Linked DNA regions of Homo sapiens: regions 1 and 2 are each reported to be linked to region 3. The links are microRNA targets in miRTarBase. Many come from high-throughput screens and were not tested one by one. Region 3 holds a microRNA gene; each other region holds the end of a gene's coding sequence.

Region 1 (3,257 bases), not on the chromosome of region 3:
ATCCTTCAGCTGAGGACGATGACATGAATGAGGACACAGTAGAGAGGATTGTTCGCTGCATCATCCAGAATGAAGGTGGGTCTAGCATAGCCCCTTGCTCCCTCTTCTCCAACCTTCTCTTGCCCTGACCTCCACCTCCACTGACTCCCTCTTTTCCTTCTTCCCTCAGCCAATGCTGAGGCCTTGAAGGAGATGCTGGGGGACAGTGAAGGAGAAGGGACAGTGCAGCTGTCCAGGTGAGCTGGAAACAAGGGCCAGCATGACTTAGCTTGCCTTGGAGAGTATCCTCTCCTCCAGCACAATCCTCTCCCAGCCTCCTTGCATGTATGGGGTTGGGGGAAGGGCAAAGCTGGCTAACTTATAGGAAGAAAGTTGTTTTGTAGAAATCGCGATTCCTTCAAACCATCTCTCTCATCTAGATATCATCAAGCCTAACATTCACCTCTAGTGCCACTCCTTTGGGTTAAGCAGTGTTCTTTTTAGCAAACAGCCCTGGGAGGAAGAACATATGGTCACTAACATCTTAATATTGAGTTTATTAGATAAAGACAAGAAAAAATGGGGCTTGGGGAAATTGGGGCTTCTGGGGTTTTAAGGAGCATGCTGAAAGAACGTAAGAAACAAAACATGAAGGGAAATGGAAATGTTACCCTCACTCCCCTCCTCCCTGCTGTCCAGTGTGGATGCCACCTCCAGCCTGCAGGACGGAGCCCCCTCCCATCATCACACAGTGCACCTGGGCTCTGCAGCCCCTTGCCTCCATTGCAGCCGCAGCAAGAGGCCTCCACTTGTCCGTCAGGGACGCTCCAAGGAAGGAAAAAGCCGCCCCCGGACAGGGGAGACCACTGTGTTCTCTGTGGGCAGGTGGGGCAGGTGCTCCAGGGAAAGGGGGGCTGAGGTAGGGGGCCCAGTGATCAGGCACCTGATCCCAAAAGTGGGCCTTGGCTCTTTCCTCCTGGACTGGGAGCTCCGGCAGAAGTCAGGCTACACAATGTGCCCCACAATCTGAGAAGGCCTCCCCTACCTTAGGCCAGAGGGAAGTAGCCACCAAACTCAGGATGTCCCTGGTCAGAGGGGAGGGCCAAGCAGCCTCTGAGTTGTGGTCCTAAACCCCAGTGTTCCCTCCCCTCCCAGGTTCCGGGTGACACACATTGAGAAGCGCTATGGACTGCACGAACACCGTGATGGCTCCCCCACAGACAGGAGCTGGGGCTCTGGTGGGGGACAGGACCCAGGGGGTGGTCAGGGGTCTGGGGGAGGGCAGCCCAAGGCAGGGATGCCTGCCATGGAGAGGCTGCCCCCTGAGAGGCCACAGCCCCAGGTCCTAGCCAGCCCCCCAGTACAGAATGGAGGACTCAGGGACAGCAGCCTAACCCCTCGTGCACTTGAAGGGAACCCCAGAGCTTCTGCAGAGCCAACACTGAGGGCCGGAGGGAGGGGCCCAAGCCCAGGGCTGCCCACTCAAGAGGCAAATGGGCAGCCAAGCAAACCAGACACTTCTGATCACCAGGTAGGAAAACACAGCCGGGACTGCACTGGGCTGGGCTCTTATTGCTCTCTACTCTGGGGGGCACTGATAGGACCTACTCCTGGTCTCTCATTGTTGACCCCTCCCCTTTCTCTCAGGTGTCTCTACCACAGGGAGCAGGGAGTATGTGAGGTGAGTCTGCCTGAGCCCTAAATGAGGTAATCTCATCTTCCCATCACCTACTTAAACTATTTAAGCCTTTCGGCTCCCTGAACCCCCCGAGTAAACTGCAGGCTTAGCCTTTGCTATAAATCCCTTGGTTTGGTGGTGGAGGTAGGGAAGGTCCTGGAGCCCCAGGGGAAAAGCTGGACACAGCTTGAACAGGAAGCAACAGTGTTATTCTTCCTCTTCTCCAAGTCTCCTTCATTGTGCTGATGGACTACCAGCTGGCAGGGCCAGGGGGTGGGTGGGCGTGAAAGCCCTCCCCTCCACTGGACAGCACTGCCCCCCAGCTGAGGGACCAGCTCTACTTCCACCTGGAGTTGCACAGTCTCAGGCTGGGGGCCTCAGGAGAGGTCACAGCCCCTCAGTCTCTTCTCCTTCCCCTGCCTGCAACAGGCTGCCTGCCCCGCCTTCCCCAACACCTCGCTCCATATGATAGAGCGTGGCAGCTGGGAGCAGGCCCCTGCCCGTGGTGGGCCCCTAAAGCAATAGCACCGTAGGCCCCCTGCCCTCTTAGCACAAGAGGCCCAGGCCCTGGCCTGGCCTTCGTGCCCTTTATTCATTGTCAATAAATCCGCTCAGACCATTACAGCTGCTTCGCATCCTGGCTCCAGCTCCTGATTCCCAAGGCCTGTTCCTCTCCCCAGCCCAACCCCAGTGACCCTGGCATCCAGAGTGGGGTGGGTCATGGAGCCAGGGTGGGGAAAGAGGTGGGCCAGAACTACTAGAGACCTTGATGGATGGTTTCCAGCCCCAGAGATTTCAGGCATTTCACCACCCTAGATAGGGTCATGACAGAAGAGAAGGTAGTTCCGGTCCTAGAGATGATAGAACAATGGGAAAAAAAGGAGTGGGTTCCAGCTCTAGAAATGGGAAGGGGCAAGTTTCCACCCTTGGAGGTGAGGGTGGAAATAAGGGCGATTCCAGCTTTTGGCTGTGTTGCTCTGGATCATTGATGGTGTGGTCTGACAGCTTGAAGATAGGGACAGCAGCATCACTGGGGGTCAAGGCTTCCCTGGCCTTCAGGTGAGGGGATCTGGGTGGCCAGGATCCGGGGCTTTAGCCGGCGGGGGAGGTGGTGGACGCATCTGTAGGGAACACACAGTTAGTGCTCCAGAGTTCTCCCTTAAGGGTATCCCTGTCTATTCCCTCAGCCCTGCAGACAAAACAGGACTGGTTGGAATAACCCCTCTACATACAATCTCCTCCAAGGCAAGGGCCCTTACCGGCCTGAGTCGAGGTGCCATCATGTCCAGGAACCCAGGGAAGTCCAGGGCTTTGTCTGGAAATAAGAACCACAAGTCAGTCTTCAGACTTTGTTTTGTTCAATGCTGTATCTCCAGCACTTAGGACAGTGGCATTCTATAAATATTTGTTAAATTAATGGTCACCATCCTAGACCATAAAATCCATCACTCTATCCACTGTCCTCAACATTTATTGGGCAACTGCTGTATAATCAGCTCTGCTCAAGGTACAAAACTAAGGGAGATAGGATGCATAGTGCTCCCACCCCCAATGGCTGTCAAGAAACCAATAATGAAACCTCAACAAACACAATAAATGA
Region 2 (3,257 bases), not on the chromosome of region 3:
GATTTACCTGGCTTCTGTTTACCTGGCTTCTGCAGAAGTTTAACTTGTAACCTACCTCTCATTCCCAAAGTGTGTTTAATCATGCCGCCTTCTTTAAAATATATCTGGAAGCACCAATGAGTAAAGACAAAGGCCCCAAGCTAGATCTGTAGAGATAAGTACTAGACTCACATCTCAGTACTATCAAGGAAAACATGCTTAGGTTATCAGAATTGTGAAGGCCATAGTACAAAAAGTTAAGAGAACGGAACTCAGGATCTGAGAAAGATCAGCCATTCTCAGCATGTTGCCTTGGCTGCTTAACCTTACTAAACTTCCATTTCCTCACATGTAAAATGTACATCATAATAACTAGTCTACTGAGATAAGGGAAGAATACTTAGCACAGTGCTAGTACACTGTAAGTACTCAAATGTTACAGATCCAAGTATTTTGTAAGAAAATACCAGCAAAAGATAAAAGTTTTTTTATGGATCGTATTTGTATCAATCACCTACATGATCTAGAGCCCTCACATGGATAACATTTAAATGTTCAGTTTGCCTAATAGCCTTCAATGAAACACGGATTCTTCTACTTAAAAAAGGTAAGCCTGGAGAAAATAAAACTGATTACTATGCAAGAAAAAAATGTGCTCTGCTGTGCTCCTTGGTATTTTTAAGTGGTTTCCATTGTCTTAACACCTGTCTTAAAACGGGTATGTTGTTTGCACTGAACCCTCAAAAGTATTTATACCTATTAAGTTAAATTTCCCTTTTTAGAGTTAATGCTTCATTGCCTGTCGGCATATTATCACTATCTGTCTTTGAAAAATTTTCTTTTAAGTCTCAACTATTTCTTCATAAAGCTCTTGTTCAGAGAAACATTTTTTGATTTGTCCAATGGACTGAAATAAAAGGTTAGTAAACCAAAATACAGTTGATCCTCATTATTAGTAGAATTCCTTATCTGTGAATTTGCCTACTCACTAAAATTTGTAACTCCAAAATCAACATCCTTTTCTGGTCATTTGTGAGTATTTGCAGAGTGACAAAAAATTTAAACCACTTTATGTGCACAAGGCAATGCTCTACCTTGTTTAAGCTCTCACACCATAAACAGATATCCTTTTTGTGGTCTATTTAGTGCCAAGTTTCATGTTTGTGCTTTTTGTTGGTGATTTTGCTGTTTTAAGATGGTTCCTAAGAGTAGTAGTGAAGCATGCTACCTAGTGTTCCCAAATGCAAAGAAGGCCGTGATGTCCCAAGCATGAGTTAGTTATAGTGCTGTTGGCTGTTAATTGAAAGTTAATGAAATACTAAAGAATGTTTTCAAGCAGAAACAGGTCGATCAAGGTTATATACTGACTGGCAGACAATATTGTGACCAAAGGGTCACAGAATCTGTATTTCTCTTAGGAACTTGTTCCTTATTTGCTAATTCAGTGTTCATAGCCACCTTAAAGAACAGAATTACCACAAACAAGAACCAGCTGTACTTTCATGTCTCCTTGTCCCTGGAAATAATTTATCCTGCATAAAAGCCTTAGAAGCTAGTGTTTCATCATACACTAAATCATAACAGACTCCATCAGATTTTAAACGAGGGTATTGGATAGAAAACACAAAGAGCAGATATACCTTTACTTTATAAGGCAGATAAATATTACCTCCACTATTTTTTTAACCTCAAAAGTCCTTGTATCCTCCAATAATTAAGAAACTTATGATGACTTAAGGAAGTTTAGACGGTAGGTAGTATAATTTATCATCTTAGAGCTACACATAAGAAATACTCCTGTTGAGAAATACATACTAGTTTATACCAGATGTTTTATACAGGTCCTCTTAAGATCCTTATATATTTTATGTTAGACAAACAGTAAGTAATTTGCCTTTAAACATCATTTAAATTTATTAGTGTATAAATTCTAAAGAGTCCAAATTAAATATGTTGATATTGAGAACATTTCAGTTTTCAGTTTTGCTAACAGGGTTTAAGCTTAATCATAACAATTGCAGAAGTTTGATTATGTCAAGAAATAGCCAACTGAAGGAATAATTTATAAATGGTCATTACCTTTAAGGGGCTAGCTGAATACAATGTAAATACTCATGCCTGTAATCCCAGTACTTTGGGAGGCTGAGGCGGGAGGACTGCTTAAACCCAGGAGGTTGAGGCTGCAATGAACTGTGATTGTACCAGACCTGTACTCTGAAATCTTTATCATACTATTTTTAATGCATGAAATAAAAATGGTTTATATGTACATAGAATACACACACACACACACCCCTAGGTCAATTTCTTAGGTCTCAGTTGTGGTTAAATTCACTTTTAAATACAAGGTTCCAAGTATCCAAGTTGCCAGGCCAGTTGCCTGTACCTGGAACAGCCTTTCCACCGAATAAGAAGAGTCCCTACTTAAACAGCTTAAGCTAATTTCCATCATACTATTTATCACAGTCTAATTACCAGTTTATCAGTCTCCCATTAAAGTGGGGGCTCCCTGAGAGCAAGGACTGTCATCTTCACTTTGCCTTGAAAAGTAGACATAGGTCCCAAATTATCTGCTAAATGAGTAATGAACAATATTTCTATTCAGAAGGTGTGTGCTTGCCCATAATTAATACGCAAATATTCTAAACTATAATCTGATTTAAAATCCCCAAATTTAAACAAGAAAATTATACCAAGGCTTTGAGATTTAGCTTGTGCTAAATCATTTTTTAAAATTGTAGCTCTGAGGCATTTTATTATAAAAACTTAGTACTCATATACATAAACTAATACGAACTTAAAATTCATCATACATTTACTTCATTTTTTAGCTTGACCTTCTAGTAAATCTTTAGCTTCATTGATTTTGGCTGCTATATAAGGAGATCCTCCTATAGGAAGAAAGAAAAAAGAACAGTTACAATATGGATTCTCAATTTCTGCTTGGTAAAAAGCTACTCTTGTTTCAAGGACTCCAATGCTTATCTGAGGGAGATTTAGCAGAAACAGTGTTTTAATTTTTAAAAAATAACCCTGACACTGCAACTGGATGACCAAATATATGGTAATATATGTGACCAATGAGAAATGAAGTAATTTACGTGGGAGATATTTCTACAAAAATAACACCTTTTTAGAAAGCTTAAACTGATAGAAATAGGATTTCTATCATATATATTAGATATATATGTATATGCCTTTGAACTGGTGTTAGCCTATTCATGATTACAGGTCATAAATGAACATCAATTATACCATGTTATTTTAATACCATGATA
Region 3 (3,257 bases):
GATCTGTCCGTTTTGCTCACTACTGTATCCCTGGCACTTAGACCCAGCAACAATACAAAGTGCATGCTCAGAAATTTTGGGGAAAAATTTATGAGATACTATTGAATTGTATCCACCCCAGAGGAGTGTCAATGTATGCAAAGTAGGCAGTGTGGTGCTTGGTACAGAGTATGCATTCAATAAATATTGGCTAATTATGATTATTATGTCTAATTCACAGGACTGTTGTGAGAATCAAACGAGATAATGTATGCTGAGGCATGCTGTGAACACTACGTGCTGGGTACAGGAGGTACAATATTAATGATCCCTGCTGCTTGGAGGGAACTTGCACTTAAAATGTTATGCTTTTCATTTTCACACCACTTAGGAGGGAGGAAAGGCTGGTGGGACGATCGCCACCTGAGGCTCAGGGAGGGGACAGGCCTTCTCCAAGGCCTCACAGTATGAAGAAGGCAGGGGCAGGTCCCCACACTGGTGGTCTTCCCACGACTCCCTCATGACAGTCCCCCAATGGACAGATTGATGTGTAAATGACGTTATACACCTACACCATAACTCTATATAATATATAGAATTATTTTCAGGTCCCTGAGTTGCTCTGAGGCCAGTTGTGGCAGGTGGTACACACCCAGGACAAGCTGGGGGGAGGGGTAAGAAGGAAACTGGCTGTGTATCTTTGGTAAGGCCCATAGTGAAGCCTCTTTTGGTTTCTTGGAATCAAGTTGAACATCAAGAATCTCACTGCATAGACTTCCCCAAGGGCAGTCCCACTTCACAAAATGAATTTTCATTTTCCAAAGCACATCCCTTAGTTGGATTTCTGTTTTTCAGTGTATTTGTTTAAGCTCTGATGCCATGTCCAAAAAAGAACATGCCCGAACAATTCCCTGCCCGAGTCCCAAACCCTTGGCTTGATCTGAGCATTGAACTAATTCATTTCTTTGATCAAACTGGGGACTGTTTGAGCAGTGGGCTGGGCGTCATGGGACGGGGAAAGGGTGGGGTGTGCGCAGGTGTGCAAGGCGGGCTACTTGAGGGATGGGCGATAGTTCAGGTCACCCTCCGGTTGGACCCACGAGGGCGCTGCATTCCTCATTCTACAAACCGTACAAGTCGGGGCACAAGACAGAGAAGCCAGGTCACGTCTCTGCAGTTACACAGCTCACGAGTGCCTGCTGGGGTGGAACCTGGTCTGTCTGTCTGTCTAACACCAGAGCTCGGGCGCTGCTGCAGAGGGAGCCAAGATTTGGGTGAGGGAGGGGGCTCAGAGGTGGGATGGAGGGTTTTTTTGTATTTTTTTTTAACCTGGTTGCCATTGGCTTGAAAATAATAACATAACTTTGCTTGGGGACCCCCCACTGCAACTATCTTGCTGATGGGGAAACAGGCACAGAGACGTTAGTTTGCTTTGCTGATGTCACCCAGCTCGTCTGGCATTGAGGCTGGATTTGGGAGGTGGGTACTGAGGTGTGAGCATATGTGCTGCAACCACTGGGCCCACTGGCTCGTGGTGTGTGCGCAGGTGCAGATGGCTCAGTGATCTGGGTTTGAGGGCTTTTACCAATCCCCCCAGCAGTGGGTGTACTCTGAACTCAAGCTTGTGTATTTCACACTCTCCCTCGACCCTTCTCTTTAGCCTTCACTGAAAACTCCTGCAAGCCACTGACCCATGGAAAATATTTAAGAATACATATATTACATATATGTTGTAAATTTATATATATATATATCTGGAAAGGGATTGTATCCAGGAGATTTGGGAGTGATTGTTTAAGGTAGAGGGAGGCAGGGGCATGAGAGGGGGAGGGATGGAGGTGGGGACCACCAGTGGTAATTCTCGTGGGTGGTTTTAACAATCAATACAAGAAGAGAGAGACATGCCAGCAGCAAGGACGGGAGTGGGTTGTAAACCAGGGATGGTGATTAATTCTTCACAACTGAGGGGCATTAAAAAAAGAAATCAGAGTGGTTCGTGGCTATTAATTTTGTTATTAAAAATAATCAAGGAATAAAGAAATAAGGTAATAAAGGCCTCGAATGGAACAATTCTGAGAATGTGTTCTGGGCAAAGGATTATGACTAATCCAGGTCTGGTAACCTGATATTAACAAACAAAAAAGGCCTCGTAGGCTATTTTCTTTTTTTAACCGGCTTTATGTTCCATAGAATGGGCACACTGGGGTTTCTCTCCCAGAGAAGGTGAGTGCAGACAAATAAAAGCCGGCTTTGTGGGTGTTGATTGAACAGTTAAAAATGAATGAATGCGTAAATAAAACCAGAGACAGCCAAGCATGTACCAATGATGGCAATGTGTTCCTCACTCCCCAGCTTTATAAATATATAATTGATAAATCAGTATTGTATGTATTTGTATTGTATTTAAATTGTACAGTGTGACATTTTGATATACATATATATTGTGAAATGATTACCATAATCAAGCGAATTAACATACCCATCACCTCATGTAGTTCCGTTTTTCCATGTGTGCAGTGAGAATACTTAAGGTCTACTCTTTTAGCAAATTTCAAGCATGAAATACATTATTGTTAACTATAGTCACCGTACTCTGCATTGGGTTACCAGAACTTACTCCTAACTGCATCTTACTCCTAAGTTTGCATCCTCTCACTAAGATCTCCAGATTCCTCTCACTCCTGACCCCTAGTAACTACCTTTCTAGTCTCTGCTTCTGTGAGGTTATTCCAAAACAAAAGCCAGGTTCTAGGCTGTTGAGGCTGAGGGTAGGAAGTGTATCAACAGGTATACAGAATAGTCACTGGTCTTGGGCTAAATGGTGACTTCAAGTGTAGTGGCTGCATAGTCAAAAATGAATTAGATGAGTACAAAAGTGACGAAATGAAAGAATGTCAAGAATGGACCACAAAGACAGTGTTTTATGACCTAAAGATTAAGATTTATCCATTTGTGTACAATTGTGGACTATATAAAATAAAACAAGACTTTGACCTCAGTGGATAAGAAGTATTTGGATGTACTAATCAATATTTTTGGTCTGGGTCAGTGGTGGGTTCATCTGTGTTTGTTGTATTTAAAAAAATAAATGAAAACATTGAAAAGGGTGAGTAGGAATCAAATATGATTGTCACTCCAAGTCTGCGTCATCTGCATCCGTTAGGAAGAATATCTGGGTTGGTTCCTTCTTGGGTAAGATGCACAGGGACATATGTTTGTGAGAGTCATGATTCTTGTTTTTGATTAGAGTGGTGAATTAATACACACTCATTTGTAAT

What was found. Region 3 holds the annotated microRNA hsa-miR-370-5p (CAGGUCACGUCUCUGCAGUUAC, at 1,139-1,160, shown strand). A microRNA usually pairs through its seed, bases 2 to 8, with sites in the 3' UTR of a target mRNA and lowers its output. Matches are read on the target gene's strand: a 7mer-m8 pairs with bases 2 to 8, a 7mer-A1 pairs with bases 2 to 7 and ends in A, and an 8mer does both.
Region 1: the mRNA of FCHSD1 is a reported target of hsa-miR-370-5p. Seed matches in the 3' UTR shown: 7mer-m8 at 2,042-2,048.
Region 2: miRTarBase lists DNAJC19 as a target of hsa-miR-370-5p. Seed matches in the 3' UTR shown: 7mer-A1 at 2,276-2,282.

The regions. Positions count from the first base shown.
Region 1 is chr5:141,638,786-141,642,042 of GRCh38, forward strand. FCHSD1 (FCH and double SH3 domains 1) reads right to left here. Exons shown (of 20, transcript NM_033449.3): 19 at 2,917-2,972; 20 at 517-2,778. The coding sequence ends at 2,713. RELL2 (RELT like 2) reads left to right here. Exons shown (of 7, transcript NM_173828.5): 2 at 10-75; 3 at 170-236; 4 at 679-864; 5 at 1,135-1,510; 6 at 1,627-1,660; 7 at 1,886-2,279. The coding sequence ends at 1,659. Among named protein-coding and RNA genes, the nearest start is that of RELL2, 3.4 kb to the left of the region's middle.
Region 2 is chr3:180,981,841-180,985,097 of GRCh38, forward strand. DNAJC19 (DnaJ heat shock protein family (Hsp40) member C19) reads right to left here. Exons shown (of 6, transcript NM_145261.4): 6 at 1,869-2,870. The coding sequence ends at 2,800. It overlaps FXR1 (FMR1 autosomal homolog 1), which reads left to right. Exons shown (of 17, transcript NM_005087.4): 17 at 1-913. Among named protein-coding and RNA genes, the nearest start is that of DNAJC19, 6.3 kb to the right of the region's middle.
Region 3 is chr14:100,910,013-100,913,269 of GRCh38, forward strand. MIR370 (microRNA 370) reads left to right here and starts at 1,127; the gene lies at 1,127-1,201. MEG8 (maternally expressed 8, small nucleolar RNA host gene) reads left to right here. Exons shown (of 51, transcript NR_146000.1): 8 at 221-292.